2 separate regions of the Homo sapiens genome follow, and region 2 is linked to region 1. Evidence: fine-mapped expression QTL. A gene starts in region 1. The other region holds a variant in brackets. All regions are shown on one strand. Distances are between the middles of the regions. Region 1 holds the start of ARNT (aryl hydrocarbon receptor nuclear translocator). Region 2 has its middle 2.3 kb from the start of CTSS.

Region 1 (4,399 bases):
GGAGTCTTGCTCTGTCGCCCAGGCTGGAGTGCAGGGGCACCTCGGTTCACTGCAACCTCTGCCTCCCAGGTTCAAGCGATTCTCCTGCCTCAGCCACCGGAGTAGCTGGGATTACAGGCACGCGGCACCATGCCCGGCTAATTTTTGTATTTTTAGTAAAGATGGGGTTTCACCATGTTGGCCAGGCTGGTCTCGAACACCTGACTTTGTGATCCGCCCTCCTTGGCCTCCCAAAGTGCTGGGATTACAGCCACCCCGCCCAGCCCAGCCAATGTATTTCTTTTGGGTGGATGATTTTTTTCTTTTTGGTGACTTATAAATATAACAACAAAATGAAAGAAAAATGAAATTTTAACAGATGTAAACAATAATATGTAAATTATGTTAAAATACCTTTGCAGTAAACTAAATAAGTGGATCAATGTAATCTGCGCAGTACATATACAACTTCTAAGAATGCAAAGCTGTTCAATAGCATAATGGGATTTTTGTTAAAATTTTAATTAAATTTGTATTAAACATTTTGTGAGCGATACATGAAAATGGAAGTACTTTGTAGTGCTAAAATTGTAGTGCTAAAATAGGGGGATGGGTGGAACAGGTTTCCAGTGTCAGACTCCTTTAGTTTGCCTCCCACATTACTTACCTGCTGGATGTCCCTTGCTTACCCTCTTTGTTTCTGTTTCCTTAATTGCAAAATGGAAATAGCAGTAGAACCTACCTCATCGTTGTTGTGAGGATTAAATGAGTAAATACATATAAAGCATTTTGGACAGTGCCTACCTCGAATAGCTCAATGCTTCCTATTACCAGGAAACAAAAATTAGCCGGGCGTGGTGGTGCGCGCCTGTAATCCCAGCTACTCAGGAGGCTGAGGCAGGATAACTGCTTGAACCCGGGAGGGAGAGGTTGCAGTGAGCCAAGATCGCACCACTGCACTCCAGCCTGGGTGATGGAGCAAGACTCCGTCTCAGAAAAAAATAAAGAAAAAAGAAAATAAATCTGCACAGCCATCATCTTATTGATTCCCTATTAAAAACTCCTCACTGGCCAGGTGTGGTGGCTCACGCCTGTAATCCCAACAGTTTGTGAGACCGAGGCGGGCAGATTGCCTGATGTCAGGAGTTCGAGACCAGCCTGGCCAACGTCGTGAAACTCCATCTCTACTAAAAATACAAAAAACATTAGCCAGGCGTGTGGCGTGCGCCTGTAATCCCAGCTACTCAGGAGACTGAGGCAGGGGAATTGCTTGAACCGGGGAGGTGGAGGTTGCAGTGAGCCGAGATTGCGCCACTGCACTCCAGCCTGGGCGACAGAGAGAGACTCTGTCTCAAAAACAGACAAACAAAACTCCTCACTCTGTCCCTGTCACTGACCAAAGAAGTTACCCATTCTCAAATTACTTTCTTCATCTATTGCCTCCAATTTTGGCTGGCAATATCTCCCATACCAAACCGTTAACACCTGGATCCTTTTAGACTACCGGTTCCATAGCAGGCATTCAAAAGTTAGTCATTTAACTTTTTCACCAGGGACAAAAGTCCTTAAAAGAGGAAAAAAACTGGAAAGGATTACAAATCACCATGTGATGTTTAGGTGCTCTTTAGCACCTAAAGAGGATTTACAAGATACATTGTCTGCACGGCAACCACTCAGACGAATCCACCACCAAGCGAAGGTTTTTAGTAAAATATCCTTTTTTTTTTTTTTGAGACGGAGTTTCGCTCTTGTTGCCCAGACTGGCGTGCAGTGGCGCTATCTCGGCTCACTGCAACCTCTGCCTCCCAGGTTCAAGCGATTCTCCTGCCTCAGCCTCCCAAGAAGCTGGGATTACAGGCATGCGCCACCACGCCCGGCTAATTTTGTATTTTTAGTAGAGACGGGGTTTCGCCATGTTGGCCAGGCTGGTTTCGAACCCCTGGCCACAGGTGATCCGGCCGCCTCGGCCTCCCAAAGTGCTGGGATTACAGACGCGAGCCACCGCGCCCAGCCTAAAATACCCATTTTAATTGCATTTCAATGACGTTACTCGGTCATTGACCTCTTACGCAAGGAGGGCGAGATTAGGGAGACAGCTGGACTTCTTCCTCGCCCTCCCTTCACTGGACTGGCTGGCGCAGTGAGTAGCCCTGCCCTTGGACGATTTGGCATTTTCATTGGTCAATTTTTCTTAGGAGGCTGGCCGTGTGTTGACTCCGCCTACTATATAGGCGGGGTCTCCCCGCCGCAGGGGCTGGGATGCTGGGGGCTGCTGAAGCCGCCATCTTGGATTCCGCGGTAGCGGAGGCGGCGGTCAGGCGCCGCTTCTGGGGAGTGGCCTTTCTTTTCCCCTCCCTCCCGGTTCGGTGGCGGCGGCTCCTCCCACTGGGGGGGGGGGTGGCGCGGCGGCGGTGGCATCTGCGGCCATGGCGGCGACTACTGCCAACCCCGGTGAGGAGACGGAGGACTGGGGCGCCTCTAAAGGGGAGGGGCCGAAGGGGCTGACAACTAAGGAGACCCAGGGCTGAGGGGACGCAGCTGGAGCTGAAGGCGCCGGGGCGGGGCGGGGGCCGCGAGAGACGGTGGGGGAGCGGTGACCTGGGGAGGGGCCCGATCCCGGGGACTTGGGTAGACTCGAGTATACCCAAGGGAGCGAGGGGGCAGGTGGGAGTTGAGGGGGGCTCCCTGTCCTGACCTCCGTTGGAGCGGCAGCCAGTGCGGGGCTGGCCCGCCCTCACTCCTCGGTCGGCGTCTGGTCTGTGATGTGGTCCTCTTTTAACCCTCTGCCCGCTGGAGCCGCTTGATGCCGAAAACTGTAGGCAGAGTGTCTCGGTTTACTTTAAGAGTAGTTTGGATTCATAAACCCTGGACCACACTGCTCTTTAGTTGAGGCGTTGCTTCCAAACATTTAAAGGTTTAGATTTTAATTTAAAAAATAAAAAATGGACATTCTTTGATATATACGACGTTTCTTTAGGCTGTTACCTCCCACCCGCAACCCCCGTCCCCGTCTCCGTCCCCGGACTATACTTTGAAACTTAGATCTTGTGTTAAGAGGGCCTGTAGGTCTTTGCCTGCTGAGGGCAGGGGTTTGTGTAATGGTTATGGTTCCGGACAGGTCTTTAGTTCCACAGCCCCAGGTTTAAATCTTGTTAGGCCTACGTCGAGGCAATTTCCAAACTCTTTCAGAAAAGTTTGATTCCACACCATTTCTCAATTTCAAAAAATAATCAAATATCAAAAAGGTTTGGTCTGTTTTGTCTAAGAGATGGAGTAGGGTGTAGTGCAGTTCTAGAGAGATCAGATCTTCAAATTACTAGTCCCAGCCCTCTTTCCTCTATGTTACAGTTATTCCTCTTTAGAAGGCATTTCATTTTAGGGGTCTAGTTTATCTTGGAGACCTTGGTTATTCTTGCCAAATAAAGTCTATCCTTTTCCAAAAACCAATATATTTGATAGCCTTAAAAAGGGCCTTGAGATATGTGTGTGTGTTGCGTGGGGCGGAGAATTTCTTGAAAATAAAACAGTAGGAGTGATTACCCCCATCCCCACGTTGAAATTTAAATTAGATTTTTTTTCATGTTACTGAAAGGCAGTATGATTTTGCAATATCCAGATTTTGATAGGACAGTTGAATCACTGAAATTTCTTTTCTACCGTGTTTCTGGGAATAGCTATTTTAAGAAATGGTTAATTTGTCACGTCATTTTTTTTTAATCTTTTAAATTTTTTTTGAAGGAAAGGGAGGTAAAATTAATCGCAAAAATTACATTGCAGGAAGTGCTGAGTGATAGAATAAAACTATAAAACAGGAAAAATGCCGTTATGTCAAACCTGACCTTGTAGTAATATAACCTATCTGTGAACTATGGAATAAATAAACAAGATTTTTAACTGATCACACATTGCAAAATACTTATATAACCCTAGTTAAATTGCAAAGCATTTCTCTTATTAAGAAGTGGCCTGGGTAAACAAGTTTTAGTTCATATGTCAGAAGCTTTTTTCCAGCTGTGTGGGTGGGGTTGCTTTATTTTGTTTTGTTTTTTGAACAACAGCAACCAGAATGACAGCCTCTTGACCATATTTTCATAAGCTGATCAATATCAGCTTAAATCTTAGCAGAAAATAGCATATGTTAGTGTGTATGTGTGTGTGCAGAATCCTTGTTAATGAAACAGCTTTGTTTACTATGCTTTGGCTGCTTGCTTCTGCAATTTTTAGATTTCCTTTTTCTTTTTCTTTGTTTTCCTTTCTCCTCTCCCCTCTCTCCTGTCCCCTCTCCCCTCTTTTTCTTTTGCTACAGGGTCTTGCTCCTTGCTCTGTCGCCCAGTCTGGAGTGCAGTGGCAAGATCACTGCTCACGGCAGCCTCCACCTCAGGGGCTCAAGTGATCCTCTCACGATCAGCCTCCCGAATAG
Region 2 (4,399 bases), 110 kb after region 1:
GGCGATGAAGTAAGGCCGTGTCTCAAAAAAAAAAAAAAAAGAATTCGACTGACAGAGATCTACATTCTCTATTTCTCTATTCAGTGAAATCTACAATACAAAATTTATTTGCATTGCCATGTATAGGGATCATTTGCATAGTTATCAGTTTTTTACAACTTAACTCTAAAAAGAATCAAACAATTCCTGTAAAGGTCCACTAAATAATACCCAGCACATCACTGAAAGGACACCTGCTAATGTCTTTCGCCTGAATAATTTTTCTTAATAAAATGTTAAGTGATTGACTAAAACAAAAAAAATGCTAAGTGAAAAAAACAAGATAGAGAAAAATATGTGTAATATGTTAGTGTTCACTTAAGATGAAAGAATATTAATATATAGGCATATTTGCATATTTCTAAAAATAGGAAGATAAACCATAAATTTTTTAAATGATTACCAATTAAGGAAAAAAGGAAATCGTGTAAAACAGACAAAAGTAGAGGCTAGAGTTCTTTGAATATACCTCATTGTGATGATTTCACTTTGGATCCACATAAATGTTTTACATAATTATAAAATGAAATTACATAAGTGTAAAAAGCAAGCCCTAAAAGGAAGAAGTGAAATGAAACAAATAAACCTGTGTATGGAGGTGGAGCATAACCATACAGGGAACTATTCCAGGTGACTTCAAAACACAGTAATTGACTTACATCGTTAGCGACATTTGGCTTAATGGAGAAAAACCTGTCCCCCTCCACTTTAAAACCTCTAATTTGTTTTCATTAACAATCTTATTGGCGTAGGCTTGTTGTTGTTATTCTGCAATTTTACAGGATAAATTAAACAAGTACTTGAGTTGATATTTTAGAGAACCCAGATTTTTTAAGCATGTTTGAAAAGAAGTGCAGATATAAGATTGATGGGGTGAGTAAACCCTATAGTCTTGAATTTGAATTTGAAGTATCAGTGTCAGCTTGTGATTTATTTAATTTTTTTAAAAAAGATATTTCTTAGCTCTAGCTACTGAAAAGGCTTAGCAACAATGGTCAATCTGCTATCCCAAACACTGCTAGTTCCTAGATTATGGTATTTAAACATTGTTTCCACTAAAAGGAACCAGAGCTCCTTGGAGAAATGGCTGATTCCAGGTCTGGGGCAGGAATTGTTCAAGACAAACCTGCAATAGCCTGTCATATTAGAAAGAAAGGAAGCTTTTAAAGAGTACTAATATTATGCCAAATATACAAACTCTGTCTGCACCAAAGAGCCAGTTTGAATAAATTCCTACAGACCAAAAATGAGACAATATGAGTATCAATAAGGATAAAACTGGAATGGATTGAAACACATCAAATATGTTTAAATCCATGAATTCATAATGATATAAACATAACTCAATGGTTTCACAATATATGGAGCTTATTTAAATCTCAATTCAAACAAACTATTAAAAAATGTATAAGACAGTCCAGAAAATGTGAACATTGATAGGATGTCTGATGACATTAAGAAATTATTGTCTTAATTTCTTATGACAATAAAGTGGCTCACACCTGTAAACCCAGTACTTAGGGAGGCTGAGGTGGGCAGATTACCTATGGTCAGGAGTTCGAGACAAGCCTGGCCAATGTGGTGAAACCCCATCTCTACTAAAAATACAAAAATTAGCTGGGTGTGATGGCACATGCCTGTAATCCCAGCCACTTGGGAGGCTGAGGCAGGAGAATCGCTTGAACTCGGCAGGCAGAGATTGCAGTGAGCTGGGATCACACCACTGCACTCCAGCCTGGGCAAGTGAGTGAGACTCTGTCTCAGAAAAAAAAAAAAAAGAAAATTATTGTTCATTTATTTTAGATGTGATGATGGTATTGTGGTATTATATTTGTTTAATAGTCTCTGTCTTTTAAAGACACACACAGGGACATTTACGTATGAAATGACAGAATGTCTAGAATTTATTTAATATAATTCAGGTAGTGAGAGTGGGAATATAAATAAAATAAGATTGGCCATGTACTGATCATTGTTGAAACAAGACAATGGTTTCACGGCAGCTCATTTTACTACTATTTTTACTTTTACATGTGTTTTAAATTTTCCATAAGCAGTATCTTTTTAAAAAAAACTGTATGGCTACAAACACAAACATGTCTACTACAGCTGAGATGAATCAACATTATAATGATGTTACTTCTCCCTAAATTTATGCATATATTCAAATAAAAACTCTAATAGCCAGATGTGGGGGCTCATGCCTGTAATCCCAGCACTTCAGGAGGCCAAGGTGGGCAGATTGCTTGAGCCCAGGAGTTTGAGGCCAGCCTGGGCAACATGGTGAAACCCCTTATCTACAAAAAACAAAAAACAAAATCAGCCAGGCATGGTGGTGTGCACCTGTAGTCCCAGCCACTCCAGAGGCTGAGG[C/T]GGGAGGATCACTTGAGCCCAGGAGGTCAAGGCTGCAGTGAGCCATGATTGCATCACTGCACTCCAGCCTGGGTGACAGAATGAAACCCTGTCTCCAAAAGAAAAAAGCAAAAAACTCCAACAGAGTTTTTCAGGGAACTTGATAAACTGATTCAAAAAATTCATATAAAGAAGAGTTAACAAGTACAAAATACAAAGACAATGTTTAAAAAGAAGAACAAAGATAGGGTGGCCTAGATGACTTGCCTTACCATACGTGGAGACATATTACAAAGCTGTTTTAATTAAAACTGTGTGATACTGAAGTAGCAAAAGATAAAAAGAACAGCTTCATGAGCTCAGAAACTGACCTATCTATGTATGAGAATTTGGTGTACAATAGAGGTAGAATCAAAATTGGAAAACAAAGAAAATAAGCTCCCTACGTCATACCATACACAAAACTAAATTCCAGGTGAATTAAACACCTAAAAGCAGTAGCCATAGAAAAGATAAATAAAACACTCTCTGAAAGTATAAAAATAAGATGAGTGTATCTTTATTACATTTGGATGAGGAAAATTTTCTTATACAAAAACAGTATAGATTGATTATACGGAAAAGCTGAATAAAATGTTCTACCTCAACATAAAAAAATTTCATATAGAAAAACTCACTATAAACAAGACTAAAGGACAAGTGGAATTTCATAGGCTTATGCAAAGGAAGAAAAAATAAAATAAAAGACAAGTGGAAGACTAAGGGAGGATGTTTTTAAGGGTATATAACTGTCAAAGATTAGAAGCCAGAATATATTTTTAAAACACATACACCTTGGCCGGGCACGGTGGCTCACACCTGTAATCCCAGCACTTTGGGAGGCTGAGGCGGGTGGATCACGAGGTGAAGAGTTCAAGACCAGCCTGGCCAAGATGGTGAAACCCTGTCTCTACTAAAAATACAAAAATTAGCTGGACATGCTGGCAGGTGCCTGTAATCCCAGCTACTTGGGAGTCTGAGGCAGAGAATCGCTTGAACCTGGGAGGTGGATGTTGCAGTGAGCCAAGATCGCACCAATGCACTCCAGCATGGGAGACAAAGCACGACTCCGTCTCGGAAAACACACAACACACACACACACACACACCTCCCACAAATCACTAAGAAAATGCAACAATACAATAGAAAAATGAGCAAAAAAGATGAACAGGAAATTCACAGAAAATTCAAACGGTCAATAAATGTGTGAAAAGATCCTCAACCTCATTAGTAATTAGGAAAATGCAAATTTAAAAGATGATAGTTCGTCTTGCTCCCACCCCACCCAGGTAATCATTCTCAATTGGATATATTTGAGTGTATCCTTTTTTCCATGAATATACTAACACATACACACACACACACACACACACACGCATATTACTAAACTATACATATAGTATATATTAATAAAGACATTTTGAGTTTGATGAACGAAGGAATGGCTGAGTGAGAACCAGACAATATCAGATCATGAATGAGTTGTGTTAAAAGCAGTAAGACAGGTTTTCCTAGGAAATCATACAAGGAGCTGGGATTTGGGGAGCTTTATCTAAATCTCTTTATAACTAAATGTTTTCCATGTAAAAGTTGGTGTTTTTAAAATTCAATTTAATTTTTTTTTTGAGATAGGGTCTTGATATGTCATCCAGGCTGAAACACAGTGGCATAATCATGGCTCACTGCAGCCTTGTCCTCCTAGACTCAAGCAATTCTCCCACCTCACCCTCCCCCTCAGCTGGGACTACAAGCATGCACCACCATGCCCAGCTAATTAAAAAAAATTTTTTTGCAGAGACAGGGTCTCACTATATTGCCTAGGCTGGTCTTGAACTCCTGGCCTCAAGTGATCCTCCCGCCTCAGCCTCCCAAAGTGCTGGGATTATAGGCATGAGCCACTGGGCTCAGACAAGGGCTCTTCTTGATGGCTTACTGTATCCACTTTGTCCCCAAGACCATAGGGAAATGA

Evidence for each region. PIP is the estimated chance that this variant, and not a neighbour inherited with it, causes the effect.
Region 2: its variant is the best candidate, but not a certain one, in a credible set for the expression of ARNT in prefrontal cortex (GTEx, PIP 0.80).

Annotation. Positions count from the first base shown.
Region 1 is chr1:150,874,574-150,878,972 of GRCh38, reverse strand. ARNT (aryl hydrocarbon receptor nuclear translocator) reads left to right here and starts at 2,374. Exons shown (of 22, transcript NM_001668.4): 1 at 2,374-2,430. The coding sequence starts at 2,406. It also overlaps a transcript of LOC107985204 not described here. RefSeq lists silencers at 2,042-2,315, 2,319-2,748 and enhancers at 3,809-4,308, 4,309-4,399.
Region 2 is chr1:150,765,896-150,770,294 of GRCh38, reverse strand. No RefSeq gene overlaps it. Among named protein-coding and RNA genes, the nearest start is that of CTSS, 2.3 kb to the right of the region's middle. The variant C/T (reference allele first, on the strand shown) is at 2,413.